3 linked regions of the Homo sapiens genome follow. The protein of the gene in region 2 binds, or shares a complex with, the protein of the main gene of each other region. Each region holds a gene or a part of one and is shown on either strand. Other genes may lie near its edges. A codon is read from its position in the direction of its gene.

Region 1 (7,675 bases), on a different chromosome or scaffold from region 2:
CGATTCTCCTGCCTCAGCCTCCTGAGTAGCTGAGATTACAGGCGTGCGCCACCATGGCTAATTTTTGTATTTTTAGTAGAGACTGGGTTTCACCATGTTGGTCAGGCTGGTCTCAAACTCCTGACCTCGTGATCTGCCCGCCTTGGCCTCCCAAAGTGCTGGGATTACAGGCGTGAGCCACTGCGCCCAGCCTTTTTTTGTATTTTAGTAGAGACAGGGTTTCACCATGTGGTCCAGGCTGGTCTCAAACTCCTGACCTCAAGTGATCCCCCTGCCTCAGCCTCCCAAAGTGCTGGGATTGCAGGTGTGAGCCACCGTGCCCAGTCTTTTTTTTTTTTTTTTTTTAAAGATGCAGTCTTGGCTGGGTGCGCTGGCTCATGCTTGTAATCTCAGCATTTTGGGAGGCCGAGGCGGGCGGATCACCTCAGGTCAGAAGTTCGAGACCAGCCTGAACAACATGGTGAAACTTCGTCTCTACTAAAAAAAAATACAAAATTAGCCGAGCATGGTGGCGCATGCCTGTAATCCCAGCTACCCAGCTACTTGGGAGGCTGAGGCAGGAGAATCGCTTAAACCCGGGAGGCAGAGGTTGTGGTGAGCCAAGATCTCGACATTGCACTCCAGCCTGGGCAACAAGAGTGAAAATCCGTCTCAAAAAAAAAACATAAAAAAAAGATGGAGTCTTGCTTTGTCACCCAGGCTGGCATACAGTGGCACAGTCAGGGCTCACTGCAGCCTTGACCTCCCAGGATCAAGTGATCCTCCCACCTTAGCCTCCAGAGTAGCTGGGACCACAGGTGTACATTTTTTAAAAGTGTTTTGTAGAGATAGGGTCTCACTATGTTACCCAGGCTGGTCTCAAATGCCTGGATTCAAGTAATCCTCCCATCTCTGCCTCCCAAAAGTGCTAGGATTACAGGCGTGAGCCACCCCGCCTGGCCTGAACTACTATCTTTTATTGTCTTCTTCACTATCCCCCACTAAAGCAGGTTCCTGGTGGGCAGGAACTCCTCCCTTAACCTCTCTGGGCTTGTTTCCTCACCTTTAAAATGGGTGTTATCAGAGTCCCTGCATCTCAGAGTGTTGCTATGGTGACTGAATGAGTTCATTAATGTAAGGCACTTCAACAGTGCCCAAGGTGCTCAATAAATAGATCTAACTACAGTAGTGTTCCCCACTGGTCCCCTGTGCCTTGATGCCGGGCAAAGGAATAGTGCAGACAGGCAGGAGGAGGCAGAGAGGGAGAGAGAGGGAGTGGGAGTGGGGGAACGTCAGGGATGGAGACCCCAGGCAGGCGCCCAATGACACAGAGATCCGCAGTCCTCTCTCCATCTTTAATGGGGCCCCAGGTGGGCTTGGGGCACGGGTGTCCTTAAATACAGCCCCCATGGGCAAGGCAGCGGGGGCGGGGCGGGGTGGGGCCGGGCCTGCCGGGGCGGGGCGGGGCGGGGCGGGACCTCAGCTGCACTTGCAGGAGCGCACGATCATGTTGGACAGCTGCTCCACCTTGGGCTTGCGGCCCACGTAGTACACGATGGGCAGCGGCTCCAGCGCCTGCGGCACGCAGCACGGCGCCGCCGAGGCGCCCGGGTTATGCTGGTTGTACAGGGCCAGGACCTGCGGGCGGCGGGCGGGGTCAGGGCTCAGGGCTCGTGGAGGGAGGAAAACGGCCCTCCACTGCCCCATCCCCCACCCGCTACCGCGCCAGCCTCTCTCACTTCGTCTCTCCCCGCATCCCCTCTTCCCATCTCCAATTCGGTCTCTCTTATCTTCTAACATCCTATCTTATTCTGTCTCTCCCCACCTGTCTGATTTTCTTTTTGTTTTGAGACTGGGTCTCGCTCTGCCACCCAGGCTGGAGTATAGTGGCACGATCATGGCTCGCTGCAGCCTCAACCTCCTGAGCGCAAGCCATCCTCCCGCCTCAGCCTCCGGAGTAGCTCCAACCACAGGCAAGCGCCACCACTCCTAGCTTTTTTTTTTTTTTTTTTTTTTTTTTTGGTAGAGATGGGATCTCAGTCTGCTGCCTGGGCTACTCTCGAACTCCTGGGCTCAAGCGATCCTCCTGCTTCAGCGTCCCAAAGTGTTGGTATTACCATCGTGAGCCGCCGCGCCCGCCTGATTTTCTTTCTCAGTCTCTGTCCCTCCTCATCTTCGCCTCTTGCCTTGTTGTGTATCTGTCTTTGTCTCTCCTTGGCCTAACTCTGTGTCTGTATCTGTCTCTCTCATTTTGTCTCTCCATTTCTGCGTTTTTCCTTCCATCTCCCTGTCTCTCTTCTCCCCTTCACCCCCATCCCTCTGTTACTTCACTCTGTGGGTCTTCATAGCTCATCTCCCTCTGGCCCCTGCTCAGAGCCCCTCTCTAGCTTCCTGCCTCTCTCCCCATCTCTTTATTCATTCCCCTCCCCACCCCATCCCTCTCTTTCTCCCCATCCTGCCAACTCACCTCTCTGACTTTACTTCTCTTTCTCTCTCCTCTTCCTCCGTCCTGGCTCCCCCCAAGCGCATCTCGTAGCCCGGTGGGCCAGACGTACCTTGCTGTACTGCGTGTCCAGGCTCCAAATGTAGGGGCAGGGCCCGAGGCAGAAGTTGGCATGGTAGCCCTTGGGCTCGTGGATCCACTTCCAGCCGAGGTCCTTGCGGAAGTCAATGTACAGCTGCCGCACGCAGCAGTTCTTCTCCGTGGAGCTGCAGGCAGGAGAGACGCGTCAGGGGCAGGGAGGGGCTACCACCATAGAAGCCACATGCCCCTCCTCCCCAGGTGCGTGTGTCACCCTAGGTTGCCCCCCCAGCCCTATCTCCATCTGGGTCTCCCTTGCACCCACTGTGTTAATAACAACACAAATAGTCATGATAATCACTAACACAGATTAAGCACTTCCTCCAGTGCTAAGAGCAATGTAATAATTAATTTCACGCAATGCTTAAGACAAGCCTGTAAGAAGCCAGATGACCATCCACGGGGGGGCTAAATAAATCATGGCATGCCACACCCTGGAACATACAAAATAACACAGCTCCATGTAAACTGATCTGCTCTATTTGTGCAACAAATGTTTATTGAACTACTACTGTGTGCTGGGCTGGGATCTACTGTGGACTGAGGACAAATGAAACAGATAGAAATAGGCTAGGCATGGTGGCTCACACCTTTAATCCCAGCACTTTGGGAGGATGAAGTGGGAGGATCGCTGGAGTCGAGGAGTTCGAGGTTGCAGTGAACTATGATAACACCACTGCATGCCAGCCTGGACAACAAAGTGCAAGACCCTGTCTCTACAAAATTTTTTTTCAATTTTTTTAAAAAAGAGACAGAAATCTCTGCCCTCCATGGGCATGCTATAAATTGTCTTGTCACTCCTCTGCTCTGAACCTGGCTCCATCTCACGGCAAATGCCCAAGTCCTCACCGTGAGCCACAAGGTGCTATCAAATCTGGCTGATCTCAACTCCCTCTCTCACGCCTACTCCACTCCAGCCACACTGGCGTCCTGTCTGTTCCTCAGACAGTCTTATTTCGGGGCTCCTGCATCTGCTGTTCCCTCTGCCTGCCTTGCTAGTCCCACAGATACCCACTCCAGCTTGTTCCTTCACTTCATTTCTTCTTTTTTTTTCTATTTTTTTTTTTTTTTTTTTTTGAGACAGAGTCTCACTCTGTCTGCCAGGCTGGAGTGCAGTGGCATGATCTCGGCTCACTGCAACCTCCGCCTCCCAGGTTCAAGCGATTCTCCTGCCTCAGCCTTCCGAGTAGCTGGGATTACAGGCGTGTGCCACCATGCCCGGCTAATTTTTTTGTCTTTTTAGTAGAGACAGGGTTTCACCATGTTGGCCAGGCTGGTCTCGAACTCCTGACCTTGTGATCCGCCCACCTCAGCCTCCCAAAGTGCTGGTATTACAGACCTGAGCCACTGCATCTGGCCTATTTATTCTTTTTAATTTGTTATTCTTTTTAGAGACACGGTCTCACTATGTTGCTGAGGCTGGTGTCGAACTTGGGCTCAAACGATCCGCACGCCTCGGCCTCCCAAAGCATTGGGATTACTGGCATGAGCCACCACACCTGGCCCCTTCACTTCATTTAAACCTTAGCTCAAATGTCCTTCACTCAGGGACCCTTAACTCCTAAAGCAGTGTCTGGAATGCAGTAGGTACTAGTAAATATCAGTTACATGACTGAACATCACCTCCTCAGAGATACCTTTCTGAGCCATCCTTTCCAAAATATCCAAGTGACTGTTAGTTCCATTTAGTGCAATACGGTATTGCAGTTATGCAAGAAAATATAAAAATGTCTGCATTTGAAATGGGGCAAAATCTTAATTACCGATGACGCTGGATGAGAGTTTACGGGCATTCATTATCTTCATTGCTTTTGTATACATTTGAAATTTTCCATAATAAAGGAATTTAAATCAGAATAGGAAAAATAACAGTTCCCAATATCTATTACTCTCTGCCTGCCTTCTTCTGGTTTATTTTACTTCTTAGAACTGTCAAAGAGGCCGGGTGCAGTGGCTCACGCCTGTAATCCCAGCACTTTGGGAGGCCAAGGCGGGTGGATCACCTGAGATCAGGAGATTGAGACCAGCCTGACCAACATGGCGAAACCCCGTCTCTACTAAAAATACAAAAATTAGCTGGGTGTGGCGGTGCTTGTCTGTAATCCCAGCTACTCAGGAGGCTGAGGCACAAGAATCTGCTTGAACCCAAGAAGCAGAGGTTGCAGTGAGCCAAGATCGTGCCACTGCACTCCACCCAGGGCAACAGGGTGAGACTCTGTCTTGAAAAGAAAAGAAAAAAGAAAGAAAAGAAAAGAAAAAGTTGACAATGCCTTTTTTTTTTTTTTTTTTTTTTGAGACAGAGTCTTGCTCCGTCACCCAGGCTGGAGTGCAGTGGTGCAATCTTGGCTCACTGCAACCTCTGCTCATAGATTGGTGGGGCCAGCCAGGCACGGTGGCTCACGCCTGTCATCCCGGCACTTTGGGAGGCTAGGGCAGGCAGACTTGAGGACCCTGTCTTTACTAAAAATTCAAAAATTAGCTGGACCTGGTGGCGGGCACCTGTAATCCCAGCTACTGGGGAGTCTGAGGCAGGAGAATCGCTTGAACCCAACTTCAAGTGGCACCGGATAACCTAGAGGCAAGATAAAGCCTTTCCAAGAGCCACAGAAGCCTGAGAAGGAAGTCAAGAAACTGAGATCCCTGTGAACTCAGCCCGTACCACCCAATTTGGTTGGACCTCAGTTTCCTCATCTGTTCAGAGGTAGGAGCTACTAGATAAAATAAGGTGTTAAGCTGAGGGCCAAGGGGCCATCATGGGCAGGCTTAGGGAGGGCCATGAGTGCCTGAGATCATATGCACATGTGTGTATGTATGCATGTATTTCTGGGAAAAAGAGTCCTGGCTTTCACTTTCTCACAGGAAGTTCTGAACTCACAAAAGGGGAAGAACTAGTGTCCGGAATCTTTTTTTTTTTTTGAGATGGAGTTTCCCTCCTGTTGCCCAGGCTGGAGTGCGATGGTGTGATCTCAGCTCACTGCAACCTCCGTCTCCCGGGTTCAAGCAATTCTCCTGCCTCAGCCTCTCAAGTACCTGGGATTACAGGCATGTGCCACCATGCCTGGCTAATTTTTTGTATTTTTAGTAGAGGCTGGGTTTCACCATGTTGGTCAGGCTGGTCTCAAACTCCTGACCTCAGGTGACCCACCCACCTCGGCCTCCCAAAGTGCTGGGATTACAGGCATGAGCCACCGCACCCGGCTCAGAATCATCTTTAATATGCAGTTCAACCCTAGCTGGGGTTCTGAGATCCTAGGATTTGAACAATCTGTGATACTGTTATCCAAGTCAGCAGCTCTCCACGTGAGCTCCCAGGACCAGCGGCAGCATCACCTGGGAACTATGGGAAATGCAGATTCTCAGGTGGCACCCCAGGCCACTGAAATCAGAAATTGTGTGCAGGACTGGGAACAACAGTCCGTGTTGAACAAGCCGTCTAGGTGATCCTCTGACTCATTTTTTCAGCACACATTCGGGGCCTACCCTGCACCGGGCCTTGGGATACCCACAGCCCTTGCCCTTGCCAAGCCTCTTCCGTCCAGTCTCTCAAGACCTAGGCCAGGTGCAGTGACTCACGCCTGTAATCTCAGCACTTTGGGAAGCCAAGACCGGTGAATCGCTTGAGCCCAAGGAGTTTAAGACCAGCCTGGGGAGCATAGTGAGACCCTGTCGCTACAAAACTTTTTATAAATAAAAGACCCAACAGAGACTGTTTGTTGAGTCAAAGATCTACTTAGGGCCCCAGGGGAGCCCAGAGGCCTCACATCCATCTTGGATGTTGGAGAAAGGGGTTAGGAAGGAGGTAGTGTTCGAGCTGCCTTAAGAACAAATTTTCCTATGAAAGTTTTTTTTTTTTTTTTTTGAGATGGAGTCTTGCTCTGTTGCCCCAGGCTGGAGTGCAGTGGTGCAATCTTGGCTCACTGCAACCTCCATGTCCCAAGTTCAAGCAATTCTCCTGGCTCAGCCTCCCAAGTAGCTGGGATTACAGGCACACACCACCATACCCAGCTAATTTTTCTGTATTTTTAGTAGAGACAGGGTTTCACCATGTTGGACAGGCTGGTCTCGAACTCCTGACCTCATGTGATCCACCCGCCTCAGCCTTCCAAAGTGCTGGGATTACAGGTGTGAGCCACCGCGTCCAGCTGGAAAGTTTCAGATGTACACAAAAGCAGCTTCAACAATGACCAACTCATGGCCAATTTCCATTGCATCTCTACCCCTATCCACTATCTCTTTTTTTTTTTTTTTTGAGACAGGATCTCACTCTGTCACCCAGGCTGGAGTGCAGTGGTGCAATCACAGCTCACTGTGGCCTCCAGCTCCTGGGGCTCAAGCCAACCTCCCACCTCAGCCTCCTGAGTAGCTGGGACAAAAGGTACACACCACCAGGCCCAGCTACTTTTCATATTTTTTTTTTTGGGAGATGGGGTTTCACCATATTGCCCAGGCTGGTCTCCAACTCTTAGGCTCAAGCAATCCTCCTGCCTTGGCCTCCCAAAGTGGTGGGATTATAGCTGTGAGCCACTGCAGCCAGCCGACAATGGTTTATCTCAAAGCACATGCAATCCACCGTGTTGCTTCATCCATAAATATTTCAAATGTATCTCTAATTAAGACTACTTTAAAACACAGTCACAATACCATGTAAGAAAATTAACAATTCCTTGATATCTAGAGGAATATCTAGACAGAGTTCACATTTACCCAACTGTCTCATAAATATCTTTTTTTTTTAAGCCTGTGTAAATAAGGATTCAAGTAAGGTCTACACATTGCAATTGGTTGATATGTCTCTTAGGATTTTTTTTTTTTTTTAATTTTTGAGATGGAGTCTCACTCTGTCACCCAGGATGCAGTGAAGTGGTGCAATCTCGGGTCACTGCAACCTGTGCCTCCCAGGTTCAAGTGATTCTCCTGCCTCAGTCTCCCAAGTAGCTAAGACTACAGGCGCCTGCCACCATACCCTGCTAATTTTTGTATTTTTAATTATTTATTTATTTTTTTGAGACGGGAGTCTCACTCTTGTTGCCCAGGCTGGAGTGCAATGGCGCGACCTCGGCTCACTGCAACCTCCACTTCCTGGGTTCAAGCAGTTCTCCTGCCTCAGCCTCAAGA
Region 2 (8,314 bases):
CTCCCAGGCCTCCCACAGTGGGTGCTCCCTCAGTGAGTGCTGAACCGCGATTCTGAAGGATGCTGCAGGAGAAAAGGCATTCACAGGGCATTTGAGGGCAGTGTCTTTGACTGTTGGAACCCGCTAGTGATGAGCTATGGACGAAGATGGCTGCTCTGAATCCCATCTCTCTTGAAGGCGCACAGACCACAGCCGGACCCGGTAAACCCTATTCCCTGGCTCCCCTCAGGGCCACAGGCGCTGCCCCTGCAGCTGCTCTGCTCTCACCTGCATTACAGGTTGTGCTTTCACAGGAAACTTTGTTCTGCTGTTTAAAAAGCAGAACGCCACCGCCCGTTAGAAAGTTAGCATATTCAGAACTGAGTGAAAACCCCTCCGGCAGGGCCTTCCAGGCCACTGGGGAGCATGCCCTGCCTGGCCAGCTCTGCTCTCCAGCCTGCTTCCCCGGTGTCCCCTCTCACATTCTGGGTTCTGGACACCTCATATTTCCTTCAGTTCCCTGAGCAGATTTTCACTGCCCCAAACCTTCACTTTCTCCCCTCTCCTCTTCTGCTAAAGACCTCCTCATCCTTGGGGTCCCAGCTTAGATGGGCCAAGAGGCCTTCTTTGGTTCCCCAAGTCTGGACTATGTCCTCCAGTCCTCCCAGAGCCCCTGAGCTTCCAGTGAGCACAGCACCAAGCCCTCCGTGGCTACTGGGCCCCACCCCCTCCCATGGGAAGTGCCCCTAGAGAGGGGCTCACCATCCTTTAAGATGCATCTCACAGCACACAACAGGTCAGCAGCGGACAGAAAACCGACACTAGGAGTCTCGGTGACATGGGGTCGTTACTGAGAGCAGTTCTCCTTGGCTCTCCCTTCACCTCTCTGCAACGTTCCCTTCACCCATCCATGCCGTCAGTGGGCTCTGACTGCTCTCCCTGAAAGAGACCCCGGATCTTCCTACTTCCCTCTTATCACTGCCACAGACCGAGACGCCACCCCAATCCTGGCCTTGACCACAGCACCCTGACCTCTTATAATCTGTCCTGTACCTAGCAGCCAGAGTGATAATATAAAATCATCTGTCAGATCCTAAACCTCTTCTGTTTGAAAATCTCCAAGAAAATCCAGGCTATCCACAGTCTCCTCTCTGACTCTTGCCCATTTTCCCTTCCCTCACCACATTCCAGCTTTCCTGCTGTTCCTTCAACACAGCAAATTCATTCCTGCCACAGGGCCTTTGCTCCTGCAGTTTCCTCTCCCTGAATGCTCTTCCTCAGCTCCTCACACATGTCATTGTTTTCCCACATTTATCATTTCCTCATCATTTATTTCTTATCATGTGGGAACAGGGGCCTACTAAGTAGGTACTCACTAAAGACTAGTGAACAAGTGGCAAAATCAGGGCAGAAGCTCAGCTGCAGTGGACTGAGTGGTGAGTGCCAGGTGAGGACAAGGAAGGGTCCTAGGCCCTTATTTCCCCTTCCTCTGCCAAACCCCACTCTATCCCCAAGGTGGCCCTGTGCACATCCAGAAGGGATCGTCCCTGCAGCACATGGGCACTCTGTCCTGGCATCTGACGGGAAGGGCCCCTCAGCTGTGGGCCCTCCTCAGTGGTGCCCAAGTACAGGGTGTAGCATTTAAAGACTACTCTCTCTCAAAAAGGAGGACGGTGTCACTTAGACCCAGGCTTGCATCCAAAGCCCACCACTCACCAGCTCTGCTCCCTAAGGTAAGTCCCTTCCTTTCTTGGTGCCCCAGTGTCCTGTCTGCAGGGTAGGCAGCTGGGTTCCAGTTCTGCCACTGGCCAACCCCAACTATTGTGATGATCAGGCAAAGAATGGTGGCGAAGGTGCCCTGCATCCTCACTGTCCTTCCCAGCTGACACAGTGACCCTCGCAGGGCTGAGCATCCCAGGTGAGGTGTGCTCAGTGGGGAGGCCCCAAGCCTGCAGACAAGTGGCCTGGGCAAGAGGAGGCAGGAGAGTCGGACTCTCAGGAGTCCAACTCAGAAAAGTGCCAAAGAATGTGTGTGTGTGTGTGTGTGTGTGTGTGTGTGTGTGTGTGTGAGAGAGAGAGAGAGAGTGAGAGAGAAAGAGCAGGGGTACGGGGGGCAATGACTACTACCACAATAAGCCCACCCCTACATTTAAGGATGTTAGTCTTCTAAGCACTTGACCTATATCATCTCATTTAATTCTCACAATCACCTATTGAGGAAATTACTGTAATTCCCATTTTACGGATGAGAAAACAGTTTCCGGAAAGTGAAGTGACTTACCCCCAGAGTTACCCAGCTCATAAGGGCTTTGGAGCTGGGATTTATCCAGTTCTACATGACCTGAATACTGTGTTTTCTCCAGCACATGCTGAGCCGACTGCCCCCAATAGAACTGTCTTTTTTTTGCCCATGAAGAAAAGGAGGCTCAGAGAAGTGACTTACCCAAAGTCACACAAGGAGAAAATAGCAGGGTCACGATCAGAATCCAGTTCATCTGTCTCCAAAGCAAATGTTCCCACTATACCAAATCAAGGTCTCCTTCCCTAAGCCCTGCCAACGACCCCTCACACGCAGGAGCAGGGCAGACTAGCTCACAGTCTGGCCTCTGAGGTCCTCTCTCCCTCCTCTCGGCCTCAGCTGACTTACTGGCAGAGTGGGGTCCTGGGAGAGCTGCTGCGGACGTTCCTGTCAAGCAGTGAATCACTAAGGGCAAGCCTCGTTCTGGAGACATGTGCATCCCACGGGGGAATTAGACCTTAACCCAAAGGAATGTGGCTGTGATGGCGGAATTTCAGGCAGCTCGGCGTGGGGGTGGGGGCCCCTCACATCTTACCACCCATGAAGAAGGCTGGGTTCAGAGCCCCTTGGAGAGCGGTGGGTGCCCCCTACCCCACTACGAGAAATGGGCAGGCCATCTAGTGCTGTGGGATGGGCAGCCCCACGCCTGGCTGGGATCGGAGCGTTGCAGGAAACCTGAATTCAAATTCCGGTTTGCCCTTGCCTAGCTGTGTGTTCCTGGGCAAGTCACGGTCTTCAGGCCATTGTTTTCCCAGCTGTCAAATGGGAAGGCCGGCCTCACCCCTTTGCGGGAAAGATCCGCCAAGACAGGAGCGCTGGGGAACTCCCAGGGACCGAGGGAGGGTCAGCCCCGGCTCCACGCGCGCAGTGGGGATGGCGGGAGGGGAGTGTTTGGGGGGCGTCCCTTGGGACCAGCCCCCGCCTTGCGCTCGCTAGAGGCGCGCGACAGTGCGCCCCCCGAGGGCCGGCCAGCCTCGCCTGCCCGGCGGCTCCTACCTGGCTCAGCGCGGCCGCAGCTCCTCTCCCGGGCAGTCTCGGCACATTTTGCGCAAACCCGCCCCCGGGTCCCACCCCGCGCCAGACCCCGGGGTCACGGCCCGAGGAGGAGCAGGCCGCTCAGCTGCCCCACCGGAGCCCCCGCGCTCCGGCTGCAATTTAAATACCTCTCCCGCCGGCCCGCCCCGCCACGCCCCCCTCTGGCGAGGCCGTGGGGTCCTAGCGCCTGGCCCCGTGCCTCGGTTTATCCGGAGCCGGCGGGGGCGGAGTGGGGTGGGGCGGCGAAGCATCTTCACCACCCTGGGACCTCGGCCGGGAAGGGGCGGGGGCCCAGTGTGGGGGGATGAGAGGGCGGGAGGGAGAGGGGTTGCAGAGGAAGCGCCGTGGGAGCGAGGCCCATCCCAGCGGCCGCCGCACGTGCAGTTCGCGGCCCCGCGGGGTCCGGAGGGGGGCGCGGTGGCTCTAGGAGCCGCAGGTCCACAGAGGAAATCCGGCCTGGCCCCGATTTCCCAGCTGCTGGCGCCGCCGCACTTAACGCGGGGGCAAACAGGCGAGGTGACGGCGGGGCTGAATGCGGAAGGAAATGACCCTTCGCTGGCCCTGGGGCGGCCGCGGAGGGGGTTCCCCGCACCAAGCCGTCCACTCTGGTGGGTCCTGGCAGGTCACTTTTCCTCTCCGGATTGTGCTCTAGTGTCTGGACCCGTACTCCTCCATCATCTGCGGGACCCTTCAACAGCCTGTGAAACGGCACCATCAAAGTCCTGTTTTCGGATGGAGAAGCTGAGGCTAGGGGTGGGGGCAGTGTGTACACATGAAAACCAATTGTCTGAGACTAGTAAGGTCCCTATTTATAGCTGGGGAACCTGAGGCTCAGAAAAGGTTAAATGGCGTGTCCAAAGTCAACACAGCTAATAAGAATCAGTGATTTGAGCCCAATCTGTTCATAAAGCTAAGTCTGATTCAGTTTGGGCATTATCTTGCCCGAATTTTTAAAGTACTGTGCAAATATGGGGTGGCGGTATTGTCATTTAGATTGGAGGTTGAAGCAGATCTTTCCCAAAGCCACCTCTCTTCTAGATGCCTTGACCCTACCAAATCACAGGTACCCTGCCTTGCTGCCTGTGGACTCTAGTATGCGGGTCCCTAGAAGAGAGGGGCCCTGGCTGTCCTCCAGGTCCTGGTTCCAAGTGTAGAAGGGGCCTCTTCCACAGTGTTTCTCTTCCCTGATCGTCACCAGCCCTGAGAGTGGGGCAGGGTGCCCCATTTTACATGCATGAAAGTGACCACCCAGGGCCTTGTGGCAAATCAGGGTAAGGCTGGGCTCAGAAGCGGGATTCCCTGAAGTCTCTACAGTTACTGCCTTTTCTTACCCCTGTTCAGTCCACTGTGGAGATGGATCTGGGGAGATGGGGTCAACCCAGAGAGGACAAGCCATGATAGCAGGTGCCATAGGGGCCTGACCTAGTCTTAGAAGAGGAAATCAGGGAAGGCTTCCCTAAGGAGGAGGCCTGAGCTGCAGTGAGGGGATGGGCAGGAGGTGCAGGTAAGGAATCTCTCAGCAGGGCCTGCGAAGGGTATCCAAACCTCTTTCCCTTCCCTCCCAGCCACCCAAGGCCTCAGATCTATGTCCACAGGGTCCTAGCTGGTCCATCCAGCCCCCTCTCTGGTCTCTAGTGCTCCATTTGGTCAAATGGAACCTCAGTGCCCCTATCTGTAAAGTGGGAAAGATAGTAGCTACTACTTGGAGTTGGTGCTAGAACTAAGTGCAATGGATCCAGCTGGAGCCTGCACCCAGTGGTTGTTAGGCAACTTCTCACTGCCTTTATTGTGGCAGTTGGTGGATACTCCTATATCCTGTGGGCTTCCTTTTCCAGGTCCCTGTCCAAGGGGCCAAATGTTCAGGAAAGTGCTTTGAAGCTGCCCTGCAGTATGAGCAGAGTGACTGGATCATTCGGGCAGTTCCTGGCCTTGTGTATCAGACCAGCTCCCAGCCATCCAGACCCAGGCTCGCTGAGCACTGCCTCACCCTTCCCGGAGCTGCTACCAAGCAGAAATCACTGGGCCATGGCAGAGCTTCTGCTAGGGCCCAGGAGGGCGGGGCTGGGGCTATGGTGGGCTGGGGGTGAGTGCCCCACCTCCCACTCCCCCGCCCCCAGAGGCTGTGGTTGTGGTTAGTCAGCTCGTGGGGTTCCACCTTACTCAGTGCCCGGATGGGGCTCCCCCACATTTGAGGCAGATGGGCAACCAAGCGTGCCCACCTGCTGCAGATGCCTCTGGGGACCAGGGGCTAAAAGCCGGGAAGCCCACAGGCTCAGCGCCCCTTCCTTCATCTCTTCACTTCTTTGGCAGTCATGTTGTTGTGTGACTTTTGGCAGGTTGCTCAGCCTTCCTGACCTTGGTTTGCTGACCTGCAAAGTGAAACTAATTACAGTACCGGGTGTATGAGGATGGCCTGTAATGACACGTGTGAAGTTCCTGGTCGCGGGGGCCTTTGCTCAGTAAACATGACCTCTCTCCTCTGGTGGGCCCAGGACAGTTGCTGAATAAAAATGCCCAATGCCTACTTTTTTGGAGCTCCCAGGCCAGATGAGAGACAGATGAGAGCACAGAGGATGATTGAGTCCAGAGGCCTTGAAGGCCAAGTCTAGGAGGCAGAGCTTGAGTCTGCAGGAGGAGGAGTGGGTGGAAACTGAGCAGACTCAGGCTTGCCTTGCAGCCATGTGGAGGGTCTTTTAAAGGCCACCAAGTCCAACTTCCCATCCAGTGTCACTTAGCTTCTGCTGGCACACCTCCAGAAATGGGGAGTTCTCCTGGGCAGCCCATCAGCAGACAGCTCAGTCTTCATGGTGTTGATATTTTTGTGGAAATGCTTCCATTCCTTCATGCATTGTCAGTGAAAATATAAGAGATGCATCTCTTCCTGTGTCCTCGGGACTACCATTCTGTAATGAAAAAACCCACTCGGGCACCAAGTCAGGCTCAAAGCTCCCTGGGAGGATTTCACCTCAGGCCAGATTGAAACCTGAGGGTCCTACGCAGGAGCAAGTGGCCCAGAAAGGTGATGATGTGCACATCCTGTGTGACCTTGGACAAGCTGCTAAAACTCTCTGAGCCTTGCTGTCCTGATCTAACTGTAGAGCCAGAGTGGAAAGGACCATGGCACCCTAGACTGACAATTTAGTCTCCACTGCTGTTTGCTGAACCCTCACTGTGGGTCAGTCCTTCATCTCATGTGGCAAATGAGAGTAAAGACAGCCATAGACAGCCTTCCAGTTAGGTGTCTTTATTCTCAATGACTGACCAGGAAACTCAGAGACCTTTATTCTCAATTACTGACCAGGCTCAGAGAGGTTAAGCAACTGCCTAAAGTCACACAGCACAGCTATGGAGCCAGTAATTGAACCGAGGTCTTCTGATTTTCAGGCCAGGTCTCAGTGCAGAGATGTGGCTGTCCTCACTCCCTGCTTCTGCCCAGCACCCACATGGGCCCCTGAGAGTCTGGGAGTTCCCTCACGAGCCCCTTCTGGGCCCTGCCTTCTAGGGCAGAACCCTGGGTTCCCCAGTTCTTCCCCTGACTCCCCTCCCTTTCTCCCTAGGGCAAATGGACTCAGGCCACACCAGCTCTAGGCCACCTCCTGGAGGGGCAGGAGGATGTTATGAATGGCCCAGTGGTGGGGAGTAGCTGGTCTCTTGAGTGGGAATATCAAGGGCTTGCAGGACCAGGCCTGGGGCCAGGTTCTTTACTTATCCCCTGCCCATAGCCATCTGACGAGGGGAGGCCTATCTCTGCCCCCCTTTTACAGAAGAGAGATGAAGCCTGCAGGGACTCTATGACTTGCTGGTGGTCACACAGCAGACACAGTGGGCATGCCCATCCAAGTCCTCAGGCTCCAAGTCCTCATTCGTGGCCAGAGAATGAGGACTTACTCTGCGGGTTTTCTGTTCTTGATGGAGGCACAAGGCACCCCCTCATGGCAGCACTTAGCGTTACCAAGGCAGGGGAAGCAGGTGCTGGTGAGACCCCATATACCCCGCAGCCACCACACGAAAGGCTCCTGGTTCAGAGTCCCGTCAGTGACTACTGTGACTGAAGGGACTGGAGGCTCCCAGAGGCCCCAAGGGAGTTGGGGGGATGGACCAGGCAGGGCAGGATCAGAAGTGTCTCCACAACCTGATGCTGTGCTGAGCTGTGGACCATGAAACCGCAGCTTTCTGCAGCACCAGGCTGCTGGGAACCCGAGGTCTTGTGCCTTTGAGCCATGCAACTTTTTCCTCTGTTTTAACTGCTTAAAGGTTAAACCTGATGTACCCTTTTCTTGATGATCCAGTGTTTATCACTTTGGGCTTTGGTTATGGTCTGTGAGGTCACAAAGTGTCATCTCCAAGGTACTAAAAACAGCAACGAGCCAAGGCCAGGATGAGGTGGCTGCAAACACATGAGCTCCTAAAAGCACCACTCACAGGAGCCGGGTGCTGGCATAGAGGAGGAGAGGTGGCCATAAATTTCAGAGAATCTTCCCAGCCTCCTCTAATCCCATGCCAAGAAATATGACAGATTCTAGGCCCAGAGAGGGTGAGGACGTGGCCCGAGGTCACACAGTGGGCCGAAGGTCTTATTCTCCTCCTCCACTTTCTTCCACAGGCCTCACGTGGGGTGCTCCTGGGTTCACACAGCAACCTCTTCAGAGGTCTAGCCCAGTTCTTCTCAAGCTTTGGCAAGCATCAGAATCCCTGAGGACTGGCTAAATAGATTGCCAGGCCCCATCCCAGAGAGTCTGGTTCAGTAGGTCAGAGGTGGGGCCCGGAATCTGCACCTCCAGCAAACCCTCAGTGGCGCTGATGCTGCCAGTCCTCAGACCACCCTTTGAGACGCACTGCTCCAGGGAAGTACCGTGATGATGAGGGGCAGGCAGGCTCTGCGGTGGGGCTCGGGGCAGGCCCTGGCCCCTGCTGTCATAGTTGCCCAGCTTTCACCTATGAAGTGGAGATAACGCCAGCCCCTCCCTCACTGCATCGCAGAAATGAAGGAATGAAATGTAA
Region 3 (7,675 bases), on a different chromosome or scaffold from region 2:
ATGGAGCTGGCAGGCAGGGGAGGGTGGTCAGCAGAGCACACAGCAAGGGGTGAAAGGAACCTGGCTGGAGAGAAGGAACAGGAGTGGGTACCGATGGGTGGACCAGCTCTGGCTGGAGGTGCAAAGGCCCCGTTCACGGCTCCACGCCAGGCAGAGGAGCCTGTGGTTACTGGCGAGGGGTTCCCGCTCCAGCTTCCTGTGGCTGCCTGGAGCGCCTTTCTTCAGGATGTGGCTGCCATGTGGGGCGGAGGCTGGAGGCCGATGCAGAGCTACTACTCCCTGCCCAGGGTCTCTGGGTGGGGCTGGCTCAGAGACCCACAGTTCCCAGAGGCACCTAGCAGCTCGATGGCCAAGGCTCCAACTCCCTGGGAACCCACCAACGCGGGAGATAGTGACCACAAGCATCAGAGGAAGGTCGAAATCTGAGGCCGGCAGGAGAGGTGTGAGGAGAGTCCAGGGCAAGAGGGCAGGACTCAGACCTTCATGGTCTGGGTCAGCAGGAGGAGTCCAAGGGAGGAAGCATTCTGAGTCACCAGGACCCCCCCATCCCGGAATCCTGAGCTGAGAATGAATGAGCCACGTGGAGGCAAGGCCATGCAGGTGCAAGTGGACACTGATTTTGTGCAGACTCAAAGCACAAATAGCAGATGTCCTTGGGAAAAGCCCGGGCAGGGCCCCATAGATGCTGGGCAGCTTCCAGGCTGCAGTACCAAGACCTTACAACTGCAACAGATGGGTGGATGTGGGGTTATGGAGCAATGGTCTGGCCTGGGGCAACCCAGCACAGTGAGCAGGATGCTGTTCAGGATGCTGGGGAGGAGCCAACGTGCGATGCTATGAGGCTCACAGGTACAAACCGGAAGCAGGCAGACTCTGCAGCTGTTGGAGGTGACTTGGAGGCTGAGCAGACGGACCTGGGCCCGCCCTGCAGCTGGTCGGGTGCTGAGCCCACCCCAGAGAGGCAGACACACAAGGCACACTAACTATAAAGAAGGCAGTGGGCAGGTGCTGAGCAGGAGCAGAGAGCCATCATCAGGGGCTTGCAAGGCGGCGGGGCGGGGTGGGGGAAGGAAGCCTGTCTTTAACTCATGAGGGCAGACAGGGGTGACACCAGGTCTGTGGTGGGGCACAGCAGGGTCTCAATGCCAGAGCCTCTGCTGGGAGGTCATGAGATCACGTTCTGTTCCATATTTCCTCACTTCTGGCCACTTCCCTGACCCAGTGAACATGCATTCAAAGGAAAGTGACAGTAGGAGCCAGGGCAAGGAGATAGAGGTCCCTGGAGAGGAAAATGAAAGAGGAAATACTTTTTAGTAGTGCAGGAGAAAGGGCACCAAGGTGAGAGCAGAGAGGAAGGCCTTTTCCTAAATAACCTTTTCTCCCTGTTTTACAGATAAGGAAACTGAGACCTGGATTGCTTAAGTAATTTGTCCAAAAAGAGCAGGGACCCTAACCTAGACATTCTGTGTGCAGGACGCATGTAGTTAAGCACTCATTTATATGTAAAATACACGTTGTAAGTGTTACCTTTAACCTCCTTTAACCTTTAGGGTTCAGTAGAACTTTGATTTATAACATAAATGAATCATGTGTTGGACCAAGCAGGAGAGGTCAGAGTTATTATCTTAGTAACCCAGGTGGCAGATTGCACAATGATAACTGGATTTGTTCTTCCTTAGCTCTGCATTTTTTTTTTTTTTTTTTTGCCCGGGAGATTCATACTGCCACAAATGTTCTCCCTAATTTAATGAAGGAGTTTTCTTTATTTAATGAAGAGTCTCAAGCAGGTTAAGCAACCGCAGCTACGTAAAAGTGACCTCTCTGAGCCTCAGTTTCCCCAGCTGTAAAGTTAGAGATGATTTCCAAACTCCTTTTCAGCTGAAAGAATTTTATAATTCCATCTGGGATGAATCAGCAGAGCCTCTATTGGGGAGTATGGGCAAGACTCTGTAATCCTTTTTCTAATTCTCCAGGATTTTACTGTCGGGAGGGAGTAGAGAGTTTCTCTGACCCCATGTGATGGGAAAGGACACAGCTTTTTTACTTCCGTTGTCATCCCTCTTACAAAGGTATCACCAATGTAGGTGTCATTTTATCTTCTGGCTTGTAATTATCTGTCTCTGTTCGGAGACTTGTTGTTTTCAGCCAAGGGCAGCGCTAAGACAACCAGCAAACCCAGAGTTTCTCAGCAAAGAGAAAACTCTATATTTTAGTCTTTGTTCTCTAGCTGCTAAGTGTAGATTTTGTTTATTCTGAGAATTATTCTGAAAATCATTTGCTCCAAGGGCCAATGCCCTCTGCACAGTAGAGGTCAGCACTTCTCCAAGTGTGGTCCAGAGGAAGCTGGAGGTAAATGTAGATTCCCTGGTCCCACCCACCCTTATAGAATCAGAATCTTGAGGGGGTGGAGTCTTGGGGAACCTGTATTTTCGACAAGCTCCTTATGGATTCTTAAGCACATTGAAGCTTAAGAGTCAGTGAACTAGGGCGAAACTTTTCTTAGAGGGATGGCAAACACAAGTGCCTACAGAGACCCGGCAGGAAATGCAAATGATCTGGAAGAAAAGCCACGGCGTCATGATAAACTGCACCAGGACACTTGGTCTTGGGGTCAAGAAGAAAGTAGGGTGTGTGAGACAGGGAGAGGGAGGGGACCTGGAGCCCACGTGCCCAGCCAAAGCAGCAGCCAGCCTCAGTTCTTGCTGGGTTTTGCATTGAGGACTGTGGGTCCAGCTTGATTAGTTCTTCCCGTGTCCCAGAAAAGCAGAAAATCTGGATCTTTCTGTGAAGTGTTCCAATTTTTAACATGGGCTTAAAATGTTTATGGGCTTCTAACTCAAAATTTTTAAAGGTGTTCCATCAGCGAAACAACATGTCTAATTCATTTAACGGTTAATCAATAGAAAGCTCACACCATTAAAGCAGTGGTTTCTCAAACTTCCAGAACATCTAGAAGCCATGGTGCCCTTTGCAACACATTATAATCTGTGGTTCTCAACCCTGGCTGCACGTTAGAATCATCTGGAGATCTTGAAAAAAATATGCCGTGGACCCCACTCACTCCAGTGTAGTCAGAACTGCTGGGGAATGGGTCCAGGAATCATTTGTTTTTAAAGCTTTCCAGGTGATTCTAATGTGCAGCCAGGGTAGAGAAGTACAGCCACACTGATAAATATAGTCCCTTCACTAGAACCAGCAGAAATGATATATACAAGCAAAGGCACACCTAGCCACCCAGGTGTCTGAACACATTTTAAAAGGCAGTTAACTAAACATGGTCAGCTATTTCCTGGTTTTTCCATGCATACTGTACATGAATATTCTTTGCTTATGTTTTGCCCCGTTAAACAAAATAGAGAAAATGGCATTCACCAATATATATTTTTTCTGTGCAATGGAAAAAGTTGCTCAAGATTTAATTTGTAAAGGTGGGACCCCCTAGTCCAGCTCTCAATAATACTAGTGTTCTGTGAGGCATGGCTTAAGAACCACAAACTCGTTTGCAGTGGGTCATTGTCTGAGGCATAGGTTGACACTCTAGGCCCATTTAGTGGAATCTTGCCATATTTTGTTGATGAAACCATCTTCACCAGATGATCTCCCAGATCCCTCCCAGCTTGAAGAGTCTCTGCTTCAATAAATGAGGTATGTTCAGAAGACCTGGGTTCAAACCCCACCTCCACCACCTTCTAGTTATGTGACCTTGGGAAAGACATTTAACTTTTTGAGGCTCAGTTTTCTCATTTGTCAAGTGATAAATTTTACATGTTTTCATTCTTCTCAGGGGTTGTTAGAAGGTCACATGAAGTAATAAAAACTCGACAAAACAAGGTGGTGCTATTACATTTTGCTTATTTATGTATACGATGATTCATTCCACAGATTACTTAAAACATCATTATTCAGTGAATTTGATTGTCAAGAAGATTGTATGTACATTTTCTTTGATCTCCCAGGCAATTCTTTTTTTTAATTAATTTTAATTTTAATTTTTTTGACAGAGTCTCACTCTGTCACCCAGCCTGGAGTGCACTGGTGCAATCTCGGCTCACTGTAGCTTCTGCCTTCTGGGTTCAAGTGATTCTCATGCCTCAGCCTCCCGAGTAGCTGGGGTTACAGGTGCCCACCACCACACCCAGCTAATTTTTGTATTTGGAGTAGAGATGGGGTTTTGCCATGTTGGCCAGGCTGGTCTCGAACTCCTGACCTCCAGTGATCCACCTGCCTCGGCCTCCCAAAGTGCTGGGATTACAGGCATGAGCCACTGTTCTCGGCCTTTAAAATTTTTAATTTTAAATAATAGGGATAGGTCCTCCCTATGTTGTCCAGGCTGATCTTGAACTCCTGGGCTCAAGCAATCCTCCCGCCTCAGCCTCCCGAGTAGCTGAAATAACAGACATGTGCTACCATGCCCAGCTAATTTTCGTATTTTTTATAGAGATGGGGTTTCACCATGTTGGCCAGGCTGGTCTCAAACACCTGAGCTCAAGCAATCCACCCACCTCAGCCTCCCAAGGTGCTGGCTGGGATTACAGGCGTGAGCCACCATGCCTGGCTGCCAATTCTTCTTCTTCTTCTTCTTTTTTTTTTTTTTTTTGAGATGGAGTCTCACTCTGTTGCCCAGGCTGGAGTGCAGTGACACAATCTCAGCTCACTGCAACCTCGACCTCCCAGGTTCAAGTGACTCTCCTGCCTCAGCCTCCTGAATAGCTAGGATTACAAGCATGCACCATCATGCCTGGCTAATTTTTGTATTTTTAGTAGAGACGGGGTTTCACCTTGTTGCCCAGGTGCCAATTCTTTTTTAATCACTAGCAATTGTGTCCTAAGCTTTGCTTGCTAGTGTCAAGTTGCTTGTGTCAGCTAACTTCTGAGTGACTCTGGCCAAGACCCTCTAGACAGCCATTTCTTCCTCTGAAGAGGGTTGCGCCACATGACTCCTGATGTCCCTTCTAATCATGGGAAATCTATATATCCCAGTAATAGAAAAATGACCTTTCCCACCTCTTTCTTGAAACCTTAAAATTCTCCCCAGGATGTGTTCATCCTGGGGAGCAGATTATGATTGATAGGCTGGAAGAAACCAAAGAGGACGGCCACTAGGGTGTCCTGAGAACTCTCTTAGCTCATAACTTTCCCCATCTCCTGGCTTCCCACTGCCTTGACCCACTCTGACTGTCTCACCAGCAAGTGCCATTTTCCATCTCCCTTCTTTTTTTTCTGAGATGGAGTCTCACTCTGTTGCCCAGGTTGGAGTGCAATGGCACCACCTCAGCTCATTGCAACCTCTGCCTCCTGGGTTCAAGCGATTCTCCTGCCTCAACCTCCTCAGTAGCTGGGATTACAGGCACGCACCACCAGGCCTGGCTAATTTTCATATTTTTAGTAGAGACAGGGTTTCACCATGTTGGTCAGGCTGGTCTCAAACTCCTGATGTCGTGATCTGCCCACCTCGGCTTCCCGAAGTGCTGGGATTACAGGCGTGAGCCACCGTGCCCGGCCCCATCTCCCTTCTTTTTACAGCAAGGTGCATGTTGCACTGACTTACCCTTTATTCCTCTTGTAGTCACTGGAGCTGTGTTATTTATTTACTTTATTAATTTATTTATTTACTTGAAACAGAGTCTCCCTCTGTTGCCCAGGCTGGAGTGCAGTGGCACAATCCTGGCTCACTGCAATCTGGACCTCCCGAGCTCAAGTGATCCTCCCAGCAGGTGCTATTGTAACTGAAGCCATATCAATAACAGCTCCTTCAAAACCCAGCTCTGTTGTCCTTGATAGGGTTGCCAATGCAAGTAGCTTATCCACATTCAGAGTATTACAAACTTGTAAACTTACACATTACTTAACTATCACTGATTTCTCTCCTTGGTTCTATCTGAAATGGTTTAGGGAATCGTTGGCAGTATCTGTTCTTTCAAAGCCAATTATTAATCAGGGCTTCATTAGACAGCATTCACACATTTGTTTTCCTAACATCTGTTCCATTAATTTTCTAAGAACCAGCGTCAGGCCCACCAGATGGCAATTTCCAGAAACACTCACTCATCCTTTCCTGAAGATCAGTAGCGCATTTGCTTGTTTCCAGGCCTCTGATCCTTCCTGCCTTGTCTGTGACTTCCTCAACAACCCCTCGGGGTGATTATAAGCTCATTCCAGCCATGTCCATTATGTGTGGAATCTGGGTCTATGAGCTTGAATTTCAACTTCGGGCTATTGTTACCATTTGTGCAGAAAGTTTTTCTCTGGGTGTTAATACTGCTCAGACCTTGAGGCTGTCAAGTGTACAGGAGCAGAGAAAAGACAGGCTCTTTCTCTTTCTCTGGCTCAGAGGGGTGGGAAAGAGCATTCGCTGCCCACATCTTGTGGACAGGGATGAAGAGGCCAGCAGGTGACAGCGTCTGGCATAGCACGTGCTGTCAAGGAAAGAGAAAGGAGCCAATGGTGACACACCAGCTTGGTCAGAGGAAGCATCTGTGTTTCTGCCAGGCTCATGATGTGGGCTCTTTGCTATATAAGCCCTGCTTTATTGGGTCTAAAACACAAGGTTGAGATGTCACTGCACTGCTCAAACACTTTCAGTGACTCCCTACTGTTAATGGGTTAAAATTTAACCTTTTAGTCTGACAGGTGGACCCCAATCTATCATCTTGCCCTTTCTCACCTGGCTCCCACCTGCTGTTTCGGGCCCCTCTTACTCATTTGCATTTCCTCCCCTCCCTGCCTTTGCTTCCAGCAGTCACTCCATGTAACATTTCTTTCCTCCCCATCCTCAAATCCTCTCAATTTTCACCCCTTCCGTGAAGTGCTCCTTGCCATTTCCCTCCTTTGATTTCCTGCAGCAACTCCTGGACTTCTCTGAAAACCACTGGTTTCCTGTCGCTCCCCTCACCTGTGCTCCTGCATTGTGACATCTTCCGGGGCACTCTGTCCTATTATTTCTCTCTAGTCCTGTTATTTGGGCCCATGTATTAATACCCCCCCTTAGATATTAACCCATAAGCCTGAGGCTGCACTTTTTTGAATTTTGAAATCAGACCTTGGCCTTGACCTTGAGCAGCAGGATATAAATAACTCTTACATGCTTAGCGTTCCAATAATGGAACACCAGGCATAAATGGGTTTTAATCCCCTTGAAGGCAGGGGTTGTGTCTACTCATGTTTTGCTTCCCAAGGTTAGCACTATGCTTGGCATATAGTAGCTGCTCAATACATCTTTGATAAATGAATGAATGCCCAGATGAACAAACACACGAATAAATCAACTAGCTGTAAGATATGTAAACTACTAGGTGCTGATATCTTTCTAGAATCAGTATTTTCTCAAAAAGTAGGAAAAACGGGTTGGAAAACTTACCAGAACTGAGATGTCAAGGCAGTGGGAGGAGGGGGCAATTAGATTTGACTGGCCAGTCTAGTGCCATGTTGTGGAGCTCTGAGGCCACACTGCTCCTTGCTCAGGACTGTGTGTGATTCTAGGGCCACCAAGAATCTTCCTCGTATCTCCACCTTGCGGTCTGAGGCCTCAAGCCTCTAGGGAGGTGGCAGGCGGGACGGTGGCCACTTGGTGCCTGTCCGTTGGCAGCACACTGTTCCTGCATGTCTCGCTCATGCTGTGCCCTCTGCTCTGCTTTATCTCCTAGACGAACTGGCTGTCTGCCCTAAAGGAATTACC

Evidence for each region.
Region 1: the proteins of LRRC32 (region 2) and TGFB1 are in contact, whole or in part, in a cryo-EM structure (PDB 8VSC), measured with the Homo sapiens proteins. Residues at the interface, in NP_001122394.1 of Homo sapiens: Ser135, Tyr137, Glu158, Ser160, Thr162, Val184, Met186, Asp187, Ile188, Glu189, Asp190, Phe193, Leu202, Leu204, Arg206, Asn207, Ser208, Leu209, Thr210, Cys211, Ile212, Ser213, Asp214, Phe215, Ser216, Leu217, Leu223, Leu225, Cys227, Ser229; in NP_000651.3 of Homo sapiens: Leu30, Ser31, Thr32, Cys33, Lys34, Pro325 (codon at 2,576), Pro327 (codon at 2,570), Tyr328 (codon at 2,567), Ile329 (codon at 2,564), Trp330 (codon at 2,561), Ser331 (codon at 2,558), Leu332 (codon at 2,555), Thr334 (codon at 2,549), Gln335 (codon at 2,546), Tyr336 (codon at 2,543), Val339 (codon at 1,617), Leu342 (codon at 1,608), His346 (codon at 1,596), Ala353 (codon at 1,575), Pro354 (codon at 1,572).
Region 3: the proteins of LRRC32 (region 2) and TGFB3 are in contact, whole or in part, in a cryo-EM structure (PDB 8VSB), measured with the Homo sapiens proteins. Residues at the interface, in NP_001122394.1 of Homo sapiens: Ala110, Ser135, Tyr137, Ser160, Val184, Met186, Asp187, Ile188, Asp190, Phe193, Leu202, Leu204, Arg206, Asn207, Ser208, Thr210, Cys211, Ile212, Ser213, Asp214, Phe215, Ser216, Leu217, Cys227, Asn228, Ser229, Lys254; in NP_001316868.1 of Homo sapiens: Leu24, Ser25, Thr26, Cys27, Thr28, Leu30, Pro347, Pro349, Tyr350, Leu351, Arg352, Thr357, His358, Val361, Leu364, Leu368, Ser375.

Annotation. Positions count from the first base shown.
Region 1 is NC_000019.10:41,329,594-41,337,268, forward strand, and holds the end of TGFB1 (transforming growth factor beta-1 proprotein preproprotein), read right to left. Parts: intron 2,689-7,675; coding exon 2,535-2,688; intron 1,618-2,534; coding exon 1,459-1,617; 3' UTR 730-1,458; downstream 1-729. UniProt on the Homo sapiens protein: Transforming growth factor beta-1 proprotein: Precursor of the Latency-associated peptide (LAP) and Transforming growth factor beta-1 (TGF-beta-1) chains, which constitute the regulatory and active subunit of TGF-beta-1, respectively.
Region 2 is NC_000011.10:76,667,340-76,675,653, forward strand, and holds the start of LRRC32 (transforming growth factor beta activator LRRC32 isoform a precursor), read right to left. Parts: upstream 3,409-8,314; 5' UTR 3,275-3,408; exon of another isoform or gene 2,423-3,274; intron 1-2,422.
Region 3 is NC_000014.9:75,971,687-75,979,361, reverse strand, and holds part of TGFB3 (transforming growth factor beta-3 proprotein isoform 1 preproprotein), read left to right. Parts: intron 1-7,643; coding exon 7,644-7,675. UniProt on the Homo sapiens protein: Transforming growth factor beta-3 proprotein: Precursor of the Latency-associated peptide (LAP) and Transforming growth factor beta-3 (TGF-beta-3) chains, which constitute the regulatory and active subunit of TGF-beta-3, respectively.